Linked DNA regions of Homo sapiens: region 2 is linked to region 1. A link means that fine-mapping ties the variant in region 1 to the expression of a gene that starts in the linked region. Tissue or cell type: whole blood. Region 1 holds a variant in brackets; the other region holds the start of a gene. All regions are shown on one strand. Distances are from middle to middle.

Region 1 (8,102 bases):
CACTCCTGTAATCCCAACACTTTGGGAGGCCAAGGCAGGTGTATCACCTGATGTCAGGAGTTCGAGACCAGCCTGGCCAACATGGTGAAACCCCCGTCTCTACTAAAAATACAAAAATTAGCCGGCATGGTGGTGGGCACCTGTAATCTCAGCTACTCGGGAGGCTGAGGCAGGAGGATCGCTTGAGCCCGCGAGGTGGAGGTTGCGGTGAGCCAAGATTGCGCCGCTGGACTCCAGTCTGGGCGACAGAGTGAGACCCTGTCTCAAAAGGAAAAGAAAAAAAAGACCTCTAAACAACCCACAAACTGGGAGAAAATTTTTGCAAATCACATGTTCCATAAGGGACTTGTATCTAGGATACATAAAATTCTTACAACTCAGTAATGAAAAGACAAATAGCCAAGTTTAGAAATGGGCAAGGGAGACAACACCAAATGCTGGTGAGGATGTGAAGCAACAGGAACTCTCCTTACTGGTAGGAACGCAAAATGGTACAGCAGCTTTGGAAGACAGTTTGGCTTTCTGACAAAACTAAACATACTCCCATCAGAAGATCCAGCCATTGCATTCCTTAGTGTTTACCCAAATGAGCTGAAAACTTATGTCCACACAGAAACCTGCACATGGATGTTTACAGCAGCTTTTGTTTTTGTTTTTGTTTTTGAGATGGAGTCTCGCTCTGTCACCCAGGGTGGAGTGCAGTGGCGCGATCTCGGCTCACTGGAAGCTCTGCCTCCTGGGTTCACGCCATTCTCCTGCCTCAGCCTCCAAGTAGCTGGGACTACAGGCGCCTGCCACGAAGCCCAGCTAATTTTTTGTATTTTAAGTAGAGACGGGGTTTCACCATGTTAGCCAGGATGGTCTCGATCTCCTGACCTCGTGATCTGCCCGCCTTGGCCTCCCAAAGTTCTGGGACTACAGGCGTGAGCCACCGCTCCCGGCCAGCAGCAGCTTTATTTGTAATTGCCAAAACTTGAAAGCAACCAAGATGTCCTTTAGCAGGTAAATGGATAAATAAACCTTGGTATATCCAGACAATGGACTATATTCAGCACTAGAAAGAAATGAGCTATTAAGCCATGAAAAGGCATGGAGAAACCTTAAATGCATATTAGTAAGTGAAAGAAGACAATCTGAAAGAGCTACATACTGTATGATTCCAACTATATTACATCCTGGAAAAGGCAAAACTATGGAGACAATAAAAAAGATGGCAGGGGCTGGGAGTGGGGAGAAATGCACAGAGGTGGTGCACAGAGAATATTTAGGGTAGTGAAATTACTCTGGATGTTATAATGGTGGATACATGTTATTACACATTTGTCAAACCCTACAGGATGTACAACACCAAGAATGAAACCTAATGTAAACTATGGGATATGGGTGATACTGGTGTGTCAATGTAGCTTCATTGCTTATAACAAATATATCCTCTGGTGCCTGATGTTGTTGGTGGGGGGAGGCTATGAGTGTGTGTGGGGTGGGGGAACCCTGTATTTTCTGTTCAGTTTTGCTGTGAACTCGAAACTGCTCTTAAAGATGAAATTTTTATTTTAATGGGTAAAGTATTTGAATAACCATTTCTCCAAAGAGGATATACGGGTGACCAATAAGTACATGAAAAGACATTCAACATCATGAGCCATTAGGGAAATAAAAATCAAAACCCTCGTGAGATACCATTTCTCACCCAGTAGAATGGCTAGAGTGAAAAAGGCAGACACAGCCAGTCACGGTGGCTCACACCTGTAATCCCAGCATTTTGAGAGGCCAAGGCCAGTAGATCACTTGGGTTCAGGAGTTTGAGACCAGCCTGGCCAACGTGGTAAAACCTCCTCTCTACTAAAAATAGGAAAATTAGCTGGGCATGGTAGTGCATGCCTGTAATCCCAGCTACTAGGGAGGCTGAGGCAGGAGAATTGCTTGACCCGGGAGGTGGAGGTTGCAGTGAGCCCAGATCATGCCATTTCACTCCAGCTTGGGTGACAGAGCAAGACTCCATCTCAAAAAAAAAAAAAAAAAGACAAAAGATAGTGTTGGCAAGGATATAGAGAAATTAGAACTTTCTATACTTTGCTGGTGGGAATGTAAAATGGTGTAGCCATTTGGGAAAACAGTCTGGCAGTTTCTTAAACAGTTAAATATGGCCAGGAGTGGTGGTACTCACTTGTAAGAGGCCGAGGCAGAAGCATTGCTTGAGCTTAGGAGTTTGAGACCAGACTAGGCAAAATAATGAGACCGTATTTAAAAAAAAAAAAAAAAGTTAAACGTGGACTTACTATATGATCCAGCAATTCCAATCCTAGGTATTTACCCTGAAGAAATTTTTTTCCACACAAAGACTTGTATGCAAATGTTCATAGCAGCATTATTCACCATAGCCAAAAACTAAAAACACCCAAATGGCTATCTGTTGATAAGTGGATAAACAGAAGGTGGTCTGTCACCCAGGCATGGTGGCTCATTCCTATAATGTCAGGATTGCTTGAGGCCAGGAGTTTGAGAACAGCTTGGGCAACATAGTGAGACTGCATCTGTTGAGGGAAGTCAGGAACCCCGAACGGAGGGACCGGCTGAAGCCGTGGCAGAAGAACATAAATTGTGAAGATTTCACGGACATTTGTTAGTTCCCCAAATTAATACTTTTATAATTTCTTACACCTGTCTTTACTGCAGTCTCTGAACATAAATTGTGAAGATTTCATGGACACTTATCACTTCCCCAATCAATAGCCTTGTGATTTCCTATTCCTGTCTTTAATCTCTTAATCCCGTCATCTTCGTAAGCTGAGGAGGATGTATGTCGCCTCAGGACCCTGTGATGATTGCATTAACTGCACAAATTGTTTGTAGAGCATGTGTGTTTGAATAATATGAAATCTGGGCACCTTGAAAAAAGAACAGGATAACAGCAACGTTCAGGGAACAAGAGAGATAACCTTAAACTCTTGACTGCCAGTGAGCCGGGCGGAACAGAGCCATATTTCTCTTCTTTCAAAAGCAAATGGGAGAAATATCGCTGAATTCTTTTTCTCAGCAAGGAACGCCCCTGAGAAAGAGAATGCGTCCCTGAGGGTAGGCCTCTGAAATGGCCACTTGGGGGGTGGCTGTATTTTACAGTCACAGCTGTAGGGATGAAATAAGCCCCAGTCTCCTGTAGCGCTCCCAGGCTTATTAGGATGAGGAAATTCCCACCTAATAAATTTTGGTCAGACCGGTTGTCTGCTCTCAAACCCTGTCTCCTGATAAGATGTTATCAGTGACAATGCATGCCCAAAACTTCATTAGCAATTTTAATTTCGCCCCGGTCCTGTGGTCCTGTGAACTCGCCCTGCCTTCATTTACCTTGTGATATCTTATTACCTTGTGAAGCATGTGATCTCTGTGACCCACACCCTATTCGTACACTCTCTTCCCTTTTGAAATCGATAATAAAAACTTGCTGGTTTTATGGCTCAGGGGGCATCACGGAACCTGCTGACATGTGACGTCTCCCCCGGACACCCAGCTTTAAAATTTATCTCTTTTGTACTCTGTCCCTTTATTTCTCAGACCGGCCGACACTTAGGGAAAATAGAAAAGAACCTACGTGAAATATCAGGGGTGAATTTTGCCCGATAGCATCTCTACAAAAATTTGTTTAAAATAGCCAAGCATGGTGGTACGTGTCTATAGTCCCAGCTACTCGAGGGGCTGAGGTAGGAGGATTGCTTGAAGCCAGGAGTTCGAGGCTACCATAAACTATGATCCTACCACTGTACTCCAGCCTGGGTGACAAAAAAACAAACCTAAACAAAACACAAAATATGGTGATACGGTTTGGATATTTGTCCCTTCCAAATCTCGTCAAAATGTCATCCCCAGTGTTGGAGTTGAAGC[C/G]TGGTGGAAGGTGAATGGATCATGGAGGCAGATCCCTCATGAACGGCTTAGCACCATCCCCTTGGTGATGAGTGAGTTCATCTGTAATCTGGTTGTTAAAGGTGTGTGGCATCTCCCGCTTTGCTCTCTTGTTCCTGCTGTCACCATGTGACATCCCTGCTCTCCCTTTTCCTTCTGCTGGGATTTGAAGCTTCCTGAGGCCCTCACCAGGAGCAGATGCTGGAGCCATGCTTGCACAGCCTGCAGAACTGAATCAATTAAACCTCTTTTTCCTCTCTCTCTTTTTTTATTTTTATTTTTTTTGATATGGAGTCTCACTCTGTCACCCAGGCTGGAGTGCGATGGCACGATCTCAGCTCACTGTAACCTCCGCCTCCCGGGTTCAAGCGATTCTCCTGCCTCAGCCTTCCAAGTAGCTGGGATTATAGGCGTACGCCACCATGCCCAGGAGGCAGAGGTTGCAGTGAGCCGAGATCACACCACTGCACTCCAGCCTGGGTGACAGAGCAAGACTCCGTCTCAGGGAAAAAAAAAAAAAACTACCAAATTGTTTTCCAGAATAACTGAATCATTTTACATTCTCATTGGCAATTCATGAGTGATCTAGTTTCTCCACATCCTCTTCTACATTTGGTGTAGCAACTGTTTACATTTAGCCATTTGGAATAAGTGTACAGGGATAGCCCATTGTAGTTTTAGTTTGCATTTCCTTAATGGCTAGTGATATTGAACATCCTTTCCCAAGTTTATTTCCAATGTGTATATTCTCTTTACTGAAGTGCTTTTTCATGTCTTTTGCACATTTTTATTTAGATTATTTATTTTTGAGTTTTGGGAGTTCTTTATATATTCTAGATACTAGTCCTTTATCAGATACGTAGTTTGCAAATATTTTCTCCCACTCTATGCCTTTTCATCCTCTGAACAGGGTCTTTCACAGAGTAAAAGTGCTTAATTTTGATGAAATCTATTTTATTATTTTTCCTGTTATGGATTGTGCTTTTAGTGTCAAGACTAAAAATGCCTTGTGTAGCTCTAGGTCCAGAAGATTTTCTCCTAAATGTTTGATGATGTACATTTAAGTCCATGGTTTGGTTTGGTTTTTGTTTTTTGGTTTTTGTTTTTCTTTGAGACAGTCTTATTCCCTCACCCAGGCTGGAGTGCAGTGGCATGATCTTGGCTTACTGCAACCTCTGCCTCCCAGGTTCAAGCGATTCTGGTGTCTCATCCTCCAAAGTAGCTGGAATTATAGATGCGCACCATCACGCCCAGCTAATTTTTGTATTTTTAGTAGAGACAGGGTTTCACCACGTTGGCCAGGCTGGTCTTGAACTCCTGACTTCAAGTGATCTACCTGCCATGCTGGAATTATAGGCATGAGCCACTGCACCTTGTTGTAATTTTTGTATATAATGTAAGATTTATTTCAAGGTTCATTTTCTTGCCTATGAATATCTGATTACTCCAGAACCATTTGTTGAAAAGCCATTTTTCCTCCATTGAATTGCATCAGCACCTTTGTAAAAAACCAACTGGGCACATATTAGTTGGTGACAAATTCTTTTAGTTTTCCTTCCTTTGAGAATTTTACAATTTCCCCCAGCATTCTTGAAGGATATTTTCATTGGATATGGGATTCTGAGTTGATAGTTTTTTTAACAATGGAAAAGTGTTGTGTCACTTCTTTCTGGTTTCTGTTGTCTCTGATGAGAAATAAGCTGTCATTCAAATTATTTTTTCTATATAAGTAACATATTGTTTTTCTCTGGCTGCTTTCAAAAAATTTTTTTGTTTTGTTTTCAGAAGTTTGACTATAATGTATCTTGGTGTGAACTTCTTTGGGTTTATCCCAATTGGAATTCTCTCAGCTTCTTGAATCTATTGTTTTATGCATTTTGCCAAGTAGGAAAGTTTTCTTTGAATATTTGTTCATTTGATTATTTATTTATTAATGTATTTTTTTGAGACAGGGTCTTGCTCTGTTATCCAGGCTGGAGTACAGTGGCAGAATCATGGCTCACTGCAACCTAGACCTTCCAGGCCGAAGCGTTCCTCCCACTTCAGTCCCCAGAGTAGCTGGGACCACAGGTGTGCACCACCACACTCAATTTTTTTGTTTTTGAGGCGGAGTCTCGCTCTTTCACCAGGCTGGAGTGCAGTGGCATGATCTTGGCTCACTGCAATGTCTGCCTCCCAGATTCCAGTGATTCTCGTGCCTCAACCTCCTGAGTAGCTGGGATTACAGGTGCCTGCCACCATGCCTGGCTAATTTTTGAATTTTTGGTAGAGACGGGGTTTTACCAAGTTGGCCAGGATGGTCTCAATCTCTTGACCTCATGATCCGCCTGCCTTGGCCTCCCAAAGTGCTGGGATTACAGGCGAGAGCCACCACGCCCGGCCCCCTCCTATGTTGTCCAGGCTGGCCCCAAACTCCTGGGCTCAAGCAATCCTTCTGCCTCTGTCTACCAAAATGCTGGGATTACAGGGATGAGCTATCATGCCCCACTCTGATCTTTTATTAACAGTCTCACAGGCCCTGAGGTTGTGTTTATTATTTGTTTCTTTTCTTTTCTTCTTTTTTTTTTTTTTTTTTTTTTTTTTTTTGGTTGAGATGGAGTCTCGCTCTGTCGCCCAGGCTGGAGTACAGTGGCGCGATCTTGGCTCTGCCTCCCGGGTTCACACCATTCTCCCGCCTCAGCCTCCCGAGTAGCTGGGACTACAGGTGCCCACCACCATGCTCGGCTAATTTCGTTTTTGTATTTTTAGCAGAGACGGGGTTTCACCGTGTTAGCCAGGGATGGTCTCGATCTCCTGACCTCATGATCCACCCACCTCAGCCTCCCAAAGTGCTGGGGTTACAGGCATGAGCCACTGTACCGGCCTCTTTTATTTTCTCTTTTCTTTCTTGTTTACTTTTTCCAGTCCATTTTCTCTCTGTTGTTCAGATTGAGTAATTTCTGTTGTCCTGTCTTCCAGTTAACTGCTTGTGTTGTCCTCTTTTCCACTTTTGAGCCCATTCACTGAGCTTTTTATTTCGTTGTTGTATTTTCTATTTCTAAAATTTCTATCTGATTCTTCCTTATATCTCCTATTTCTATGCTGAGACTCTTTTTTATTTTTTCAACATGTTCATAACTGTATTTTTTTTTTTTGAGATGGAGTCTCACTCTGTCGCCCAGGCTGAAGTGCAGTGGCACGATCTCGGTGCACTGCAACCTCTGCCTCCCAGGTTCAAAAGATTCTCCTGCCTCAGGCTCCCGGGTAGCTGGAATTACAGGCATGCACCACCACACCCAGCTAATTTTTGTACTTTTTGTAGAGACAGGGTTTAACCACGTTGCCCAGGCTTGTCTCGAACTCCTGGACTCAAGCAACCAACCTGACTTGGCCTCTCAAAGTGCTGGGATTACAGGCATGAGCCACTTTGCCCGGCCTGAGTTGCATTCCTCTATGAATTTTAGAAAAAGCAATCAATTTCAACAAGAAAATTGCTGGAATTTTTATTGATTACACTGAATCTATAGATTAATTTGAGAGGAACTGACATCTTTAAAATGTTGAGTCTTCTGATTCATGACCATGGTATGGCTCTTCATTGATTTACATCGTCTTTAATTTCTCTCAGCAATGTTTTGTAGTTATTAGTGTATGATTTTGCATGTAGCTTTTGTTATATTTTTTGTCTATGTATTTTATATTTTGGATGCTGTTATAACTGGTTTTTAAGAAGTTTTAATTCCCAATTGTTTATTCCTATTATATAGCAATATAATTGATTTTAATACAGTGATCTTGCATCCTTCAGCCTTGTTAAGCTGTAGTTGCTTTTTGGATGATCCCACAGGATTTTACACACAATCATGTTATTTGAAAATACAGTTTTATTTCTTTCTTTCCAATCTGATTGCCTTTTACTTCTCTTTTTTGACTTGTTCACTGGCTAGAGCTTCTAGCACAATATCATACAGAAGTGATGAGGGTAGACCGGGTGCGGTGGCTCATGCATGTAATCCCAGCACTTTGGGAGGCCGAGGCAGGCGGATCACCTGAGGTCAGGAGTTCGAGACCAGCCTGGCCAACATGGTGAAACCCCATCTCTACTAAAAATACAAAATTTAGCTTGGCGTGATGGTGCACACCTATAATTCCAGCTACTTGGGAGGCTGAGGCAGGAGAATCGCTTGAACCTGAGAGGCAGAGGTTGCAGTGAGCTGAGATCATGC
Region 2 (8,090 bases), 480 kb before region 1:
GCCTTACTTTGGGAGGGGGGTTTGTTCAGCATTTTGGGAAGCTAAGGTGGGTGGATCGCCTGAGATCAGGAGTTTGAGACCAGCCTGACCAACATGGTGGAACCCAGTCTCTATTAAAAATAGAAAAATTAGCTGGACATGGTGGCACATGTCTGTAATCCCAGCTCCTTGGGAGGCTGAGGCAGGAGAACTGCCTGAACCCAGGAGGCGGAGGTTGCAGTGAGCCGAGATCGTGTCATTACACTCCAGCCTGGGCAACAAGAGTGAAACTCTGCCTCAAAAAAAGAAAAATTCCTGGAGGACAGAGTTCACGTCATATCTTTTATTTCATTACTATTTGTACTACAAAATGAAGTAAAGAATTGAGTATAGTGTAAAATCTCTAATATTCATTAGAATTCATTCTGCCAAGCAATTTATATATTCTATGTCTCCAAATCTTTAAGTCTGAAAACAGTTTTGAAATGGGCTTGTAAAGAAAAATAAACGTGATGCATGTACACGAAACTTCTGATCAGAAAATAATAAACAAATATGAAGTACTTCTTACCACAATTAAAACACACACACACACACACACACACACACACACACACACACACTTCTGCATGTACTGTGGCACAAAAAGAGGTCAAGAAACTTAAAGAGCAGCCAAAATTATTAAGAGGAGGAACTGAAGGACACTTATAATAGCTAATTATTTTAGGCAATTGGTGACTATGAAAAAAGGTGCAATGAGGCTATCTGCTCAATTAGAATGCTGAAGATAATTTTGGGACCATTTTTCATAGTGAATGAAAAGCTATAGAACAGTAATGCCTTCACTTGAGGCAATTCCAGGAGGCTGAAAACAGGACAGGCTAAAACTACGGAATTTACATTGCTTCAGGAAAGGGGAATTACCTTGGGCTTTATCTAGTCTAATCCTGAACTGCGACAGAGCTAGATGAGGTCTCCCATTGGAGAACTGACATAACTGAAGCCTGAGAGGGTACTGCAGATGAGATCACATGGATTTAATTTGGGAAAATGGAGACTAAGAGGCATGATCATAAATCTAGATTGTAAGTGGCACATACACATTGAACCCAGCTTTTTTTCTCATCCAAACTTGAAACATTTGGCAAAGGATGCCTTTACAAACTTCAGGAAGGCATCTACTTTACTTCAATTTTAAAGGAACGTATTACACAGAGGTGGTATCTCAAAATGACAGAGAACGCGAGCTCTGGAAGTCAGACTGCCTGTGTTCATAACCCAGCTCTACCACCTAGTAGCTCTGGGACCTGGGGCAAATTCCTTAACACTCTACTTCTCAGGTTCTTCAATCAAGAAAATGGAGGCAATAACAGGACTTATCTCACAAAGTTGTGGTGAGGATTATAATGCACGCAAAGTACTCAGAAAAAAAGGGTCTGACACATGGTAAGCTCTCAATAAATAGTGGCTATTAATATACTTCTAGAATTCATCATAAAAATCAGGAAACAAATTGATTTTTTAAAGGTTCAAATGTATTTAGGAATGGGAAATCAATATATGGCTACTTATAGCACTGGGACATACCCAACTTCAAGATTTGTGTTGTCTGAATGGGATGAATCAGTAAGACCATGCCTATTTTCCTTAAGTGTTCAACTCTAGAAAGTAATGACTACTAGCTTTGCTAATTCTTTCTTCATTAATTTTGCAAAAGGTATAAAAGCAATATGGAAAAAAGAGGTAGAGAAGACAGAAGTAGATTAGCACACAAGGTGATTTCCTCAGATCAGAATCTGATGTGCCCAATGAATGGGTGATGTTCCCATGTTTGGCTGAGGCATTCCAGGACTTTACATCTATATAAAAGGGCGGGGAGTGGGAAGGGGGCAGGTCTATTACTCCATCTTCAGTTACAGCACTTTCCCCTTCACCCACTACACTCCACAAAAGCCTTCTTTCAGTTCCAGTATCAGGCCAGACTCTTTCCTGTCTCAGGGCTTTGGCAGGTTGATCTTTCTCCTACCTGGAACACTGTTACTCCCTTACTACCCTCCTGTGGCTACTTCTTCCTCATCCTAAATTCCCACTTTCAAAGTCACTACCCTTGATACCCTTATTTAAAATAGGTCTCTTCACTGGGTGCAGTGGCTCATGCCTGTAATCCTAGCACTTTGGGAGGCTGAGGCGGGCGGATCACTTGAGGTCAGGAGTTCAAGACCAGCCTGGCAAACATGGTGAAACCCTGTCTCTACTAAAAATATAAAAATCAGCCAGGTGTGGTGGCATGCGCCTGTAATCCCAGCTACTCTGGAGGCTGAGGCAGGAGAATCACTTGAACCTGGGAGGCAGAGGTTGCAGTGAGCTGAGATCACCCCACTGCACTCCAGCCTGGGCAACAGAGCAAGACTCGTCTAAAAAAAAAAAAAAGGTCTCTCTTGTTATTTTCTATCACAGCACCCAGTGTGCTTCCTGTGCAGAAGGCACTTATGCAATTTGTAACTAATTATTTATGTATTTATTTTTAATGTCTCCCCCATTAGATAGCTCCATGATGGCAAAGAACATCTTTGTTCATTATATCAACCTCATTTACCTTAACACGTTGACTAGCATAGAGCAGACGCTCAATAAACATCTGCTGAATGAATGAAATAATGACTCCTAAGGCTCCTTTCAGCTGCCCAATAATTATTAGGTAATAGGATAAAAAATACCCAGTGTAAAGGGGGAGGTTTTACGTGGGGTATAGGAAATATCTGATTCCTCACTATGATAAAAAAACAAACAACTAAATGGCTCCATTCCAAGAAGTTTAGTTAAAACTTGACTGATGTGGGCTGGGCATGGTGGCTGACGCCTGTAATCCCAGCACGTTGGGAGGCCAAGGCAGGCGGATCACAAGGTGAGGAGATCGAGACCATCCTGGCTAACACAGTGAAACCCCGTCTATACTAAAAATACAAAAAATTAGCCGGCTGTGGTGGCGGGCGCCTGTAGTCCCAGCTACTCGGGAGGCTGAGGCAGGAGAATGGCGTGAACCCGGGAGGCGGAGCTTGCAGTGAGCCTAGATCGTGCCACTGCACTCCAGCATGGGTGACAGAGCGAGACTCCGTCTCAAAAAAAAAAACCAACAAAAAAAAAACACTTGACTGATGTAATCTATTAATGAGTAACAGCTTCCTCAGTGACTTTGTAAGTTTTGCTTTCAGATGTGCCTCAATCATTTTAACAACTGGTTATCTAGGCCCAAATCCCTGTCAAATAATGGGTTGGCTACATAAGAATTAGCTGATAAGCTCATTAAAAATACAGATTTTTGGACCAAAACTCCAGGAGATTCTGATTTAGTATTTGTGAAGCCTTAGAATCCATATAATTAAAATTTTCTCATTTTAAATAGATATTATGTGTATGTAATACACAGGTCCAGAGGTAAGAAACAGTTTACAGCAAAGTTTCTCTTCTACCCCTGTTCCCCTGGCATCAAGTTCCCCTTTCCATAAGCTACTGCTGTTATCAATTTCTTGTGTATCCTTACGGATAATTATTTGCCTAAGCAAGCACATATATATCCTTTGATTTGCATATTTAAAGAGCTATTCTAACCTTGTTTTTTCTAATCTCATTTACAATATATGTTGGAAATGAGGGTATCTGCATTTTTAACAAGCACCCTAGATGATTTTGATGTGAAGCCAAATATAGAAACAACTCATGGACCCACGGTTGTGAGATTAAGTTCAATTCACTACGACATATTAGAAACTCAAGGACATTGAAGGATGCCCTCAAAAGTAGCCTCCCTTACTTGATCTCTGCCCCCTCGTCTCACAGAGATGAACTAAATCATTCGCCAGTGTCTCCACAGAAGCCAGGAAAAACTAGCCATTCAAATGGATGCTGTCAAAGCTTCAATTTTCAATAATTGGAATTCTTTCCTGCTCATTGTTACCCGAAATTACAAACCTGACAATTCCTGTGTTACACAAGACATTCCTGTATTTAAGTTGAAATAAGGTGTGATCGTCACTGAATGAGGGCTGGTTTTTCTCCTGCCAGTTAAGTAGTTTAATGGAGCACAACCGAAATACTTTCTTTACTAATCCTTATTCACACAGCCTCATCCAAACTTCCCCCAAAACTGCTTTCTTGCCATTTGAGCAAAAGCAATTAACTTAGAAACTGTGGGGAGAAGACTGCTTGGTGAATTCTGGAGTTCGGGGCTCCTCTTATCCTGACTTGACCTACCTGGGGGCGATGGCTGGGTCCCTAGGCAGCTCTATCTCCCCCATCCCACCTATCCCTGGGACTGCAAAGGGAGCTTCCTTTTGGCACTGAGACAAGGTTCTCCGAGAGCCACCCGACCTCCGCAGTGTCTCTGTCACCACGAGGGGCACCGCGCGGCAGGCATCCTCACCTTTCCTACACCGCGCCAAGGAGGCAGGAGTGCACTGGGCTACCCGAGCGAGGCAGAGAACCCGCCGGGATCCAGCGCTGGTTTACCCCACACCCTCGTCGAAGGGGCTCTCGAGGGCTCGGTTTCTGCCCAAGCCCCCTGCAAGGTGGAGGCATGACTCCTCCATCCCTTCCCCTTGAATTCAAACGTGAGGATGGTATCTGCGAGGCTAAAGCGGGGCTCAGATGGCCCAAACTTCAGACCACTCTCTTCTCCACTCGGCTTTTCTTCCATCCTCCTGGCCATGTGTCTCCCCGTGAGTCGTGGCCCAAGTCTCCCCACCTCGGCCAGCCGCCACCCTCTGGCCTGGCTCCCGCCCTCCTGCCCACCTGGCCCCTTCCCCCTCACCCAGCATGATGGGGCTGAGCCGCCGGGCCAGGCCTTTGGACAGGTCGTACACGTAGAGCTTCACCGGATAGAGATTCGGCGGCTCCATTGGGACCCGTGGCGACGGCGGCCACGACGGCCCTCGGGCACCCGGCAGCGGCTTGGACCTTCCCGTACCCGACGGGAGTGCGAAGCGGAGGGAGAGGGGGGGACCGAGCCCGGGCCCGGGCTGAGGGGTGGGGGAGAGGCCGCCCTGCGCTGCTCGCGCCCCCACACCCGCTACCGGCAACGACTACTGTGAGGTGACAGAGAGGGGACAGGGAGGGCCCACACGGAAGAGGGGGCGGGGGCAGGGATGCACTTTTGCGCATGTGCTTACAGTCCTGACGTAGGAAGGGGCGGGGCTTTGCCGAAGGGGGCGGGGCTCTCGCTGATGGGTTGGCTTTCGTCAGGGACATAGGTAGAAGCTGGTTGGGGAGTGTGCGTGCCAGCCTGACGCGATATAGTGCGCACATGCGTGATGACGTAGAGGGCGTTGATTGGGACCGAGTACAGGGCCCGCGCATGCGTGGATTGTCGTCTTCTGTCCAAGTTGGTCGCTTCCCTGCGCCAAAGGTAAGCGGGCCGTTATCCATTTGTGTTGTTCGCCAGCTAGGCCTGGCCTCGTCCCGCTTCGCTCGGTCGGTCTCGCGCGCCCCCATAGCCTTGCTAGAGGGTTAGCGTTAGCCTTAAGTGTGCGAATCCGAGGAGCAGCGACAGACTCGAGACCACGCTCCTTCCTCGGGAAGGAGGCGGCACCTCGCGTTTGAGGCCCGCCTGCGTTTGAGGCCCGCCTGCGCTTGCGGCCCGCCTGCGCTTGAGGCCTGTCTGCGTTTGAGATCTCATTGGGCGTGATTGAGGAATTTGGGGAGGTTTTTGGGCGGTATTGAGGACGAGGGGGTCCGTTAGTCAGCATAGAATCCTGGAGCGGGAATCCCTCACCGTCTAAATGGCGTCGGGGGCGGGACCTCCGGGATCTGGCTTCCGCGGGCCGCCGCCGGCCCTGAAACGTGAGGGATAGCTGAGATGAGGCAGCTACTGGGATGGCCCCCATGCGCATTTACATGCAGTCCGACTGCCGAGCTTTCGAGGCAGCAGGATTTACCGTCCACATTCCTCACTACTAACCAAGCTTTTAGAACAGATCTCACAAGAACCTAGAGGTCGGTATTTTTTCGATTTAAATTTGCCTGTTACTGACGTTAACGTCTTTCGCCTAGTGAGCAGTAGCCAACATGTCAGGGTGGGAGTCATATTACAAAACCGAGGGCGATGAAGAAGCAGAGGAAGAACAAGAAGAGAACCTTGAAGCAAGTGGTAAGTGACTTCAGCATGTAGTGCCATTCGGTGTGTGGAAGAAAGACCTTCCCTGCCTATCTCTGCTGGATGGACTTTGCTGTTTGATGGCCTGCCCTTCTCCTCCCAGATAATTCTGAAATTCTTTTCTTCCTTTGAACTTCGCAGAGCTACCCTAGGCTCTTATATGCAGATCTTACTCTAGTGTGCCCTAAGTTTTTTTTGGACACTGGTAGTTTGACATCTTTTGGTCCCTGATAAATGGCCATGACCATAGGTATTTTTTGTCATCTTAAGTGGTTCAGGTGAGACCCTTCTCATCCAGGAAAGTAGTGTTACCATTCCAGGACCTCAGTGTAAAAATGCCCCCACCCTGCAATAACTACACCAACCAAAGAATAAACGCAAGCAACACAGTTACAGGAAAGTGATTGATTCCCTCACTATAGCCTCCACGTTTGGGAGTGTATGTGCAGGCAACACAGTAACACATAAAACAAAGGAAGAGAAATAGGGGTACATGTAATCTTCATACTGGTTAATTTAACTCCTGAGCAGAAAAATTTTGAATATTTTTATTAAAAATGAGAAACGGCCAGGCGCGGTGTCTCAAGCCTGTAATCCCAGCACTTTGGGAGGCCGAGGCGGGCGGATCACGATGTCAGGAGATCAAGACCATCCTGGTTAACACGGTGAAACCCCGTCTGTACTAAAAAAAAAATACAAAAAATTAGCCGGGCGTGGTGGCGGTCGCCTGTAGTCCCAGCTGCTCGGGAGGCTGAGGCAGGAGAATGGTGCGAACCTGGGAGGTGGAGCTTGCAGTGAGCCGAGATGGCGCCACTGCATTCCAGCCTGGGTGACAGAATGAGACTCTCTCAGGAAAAAAAAAAAAGTGAGAAACATAGGAAATACAAAAAAGAAAAAAATTTGCTATAATCTACCACTCTAACACAACCACTACCAGCATTTTGACATTTTTGTATTTTTCTTTCAAGTATCTTTCAATATTTATTTCCTAATGAAATATATATATTTTTTAATTTTTTAATAGAGACAGGCTGGAGTGCAGTGGTGAGATCATCGTAGCTCACTGTAACCTCAAACTCCCGGGCTCAAGTGATCCTCCTGCTTCAGCTACCTCAGTAGCTGGGACTACAAGTGCCGCCAACTCCCAATAATTTCTTAATTTTTTGTAGAGACAGGATCTTGCTATGTTGATCAGGCTGGTCTCAAACTCTTGGCCTCAAGCGATACCCCCAAGCCTTGGCCTCCCAAAGTTCTAGGTTTATAGTCATGAGCCTCCATGCCCAGACTGTATCTGATTTCTTTTTCTTTTTTTTTGGAGACAGTCTTGCTCTGTCGCCCAGGCTGGAGTGCAGTGGCGCGATCTTGGCTCACTGCAAGCTCCGCCTCCCGGGTTCATGCCATTCTCCTGCCTCAGCCTCCCGAGTAGCTGGGACCATAGGCGCCCACCACCACGCCCGGCCAGTTTTTTGTATTTTTAGTAGAGACGGGGTTTCACTGTGTTAGCCAGGATGGTCTTGATCTCCTGACCTTGTGATCCGCCCTACTCAGCATCCCAAAGTGCTGGGATTACAAGTGTGAGCCACTGCGCCTGGCCTATCTGATTTCTTGTATTGTAACGATAGTGCATATACATTTATTTATTTATTGAGACAGAGTCTTGCTCTGTCGCCCAGGCTGGAGTGCACTGACTCAATCTCGGTTCACTGCAACCTCCGCCACCCCAGTTCAGGCTATTCTCCCATCTCAGCCTCCCAAGCAGCTGGGATGACAGGCGTGTGCGCCACCACACTCGGCTAATTTTTGTATTTTTAGTAGAGGCAGTGTTTCACCATGTTGGCCAGGCTGGTCTTGAACTCCTGGCCTTAGGTGATTCACCCACCTCGGCCTCCCAAAGTGCTGGAATTACAGGTGTGAGCCACTGTGCGTGGCCTATAGCTCATTTTAAATATACCATAATTTGGCC

What was found. PIP is the estimated chance that this variant, and not a neighbour inherited with it, causes the effect.
Region 2: it holds the start of DESI1, and the variant in region 1 is fine-mapped to the expression of DESI1 in whole blood (TOPMed, PIP above 0.99). The same link has a PIP of 0.9 or more in cerebellar hemisphere.

What each region holds. Positions count from the first base shown.
Region 1 is chr22:42,092,632-42,100,733 of GRCh38, forward strand. The region is part of intron 3 of NDUFA6-DT (NDUFA6 divergent transcript); the gene reads left to right. Among named protein-coding and RNA genes, the nearest start is that of NDUFA6-DT, 5.8 kb to the left of the region's middle. The variant C/G (reference allele first, on the strand shown) is at 3,880.
Region 2 is chr22:41,615,966-41,624,055 of GRCh38, forward strand. It overlaps DESI1 (desumoylating isopeptidase 1), which reads right to left and starts at 5,078. Exons shown (of 6, transcript NM_015704.3): 1 at 4,787-5,078. The coding sequence starts at 4,874. XRCC6 (X-ray repair cross complementing 6) reads left to right here and starts at 5,330. Exons shown (of 13, transcript NM_001469.5): 1 at 5,330-5,380; 2 at 6,025-6,121. The coding sequence starts at 6,040. RefSeq lists enhancers at 3,084-3,153, 3,164-3,223, 4,496-5,097 and a silencer at 4,829-5,098.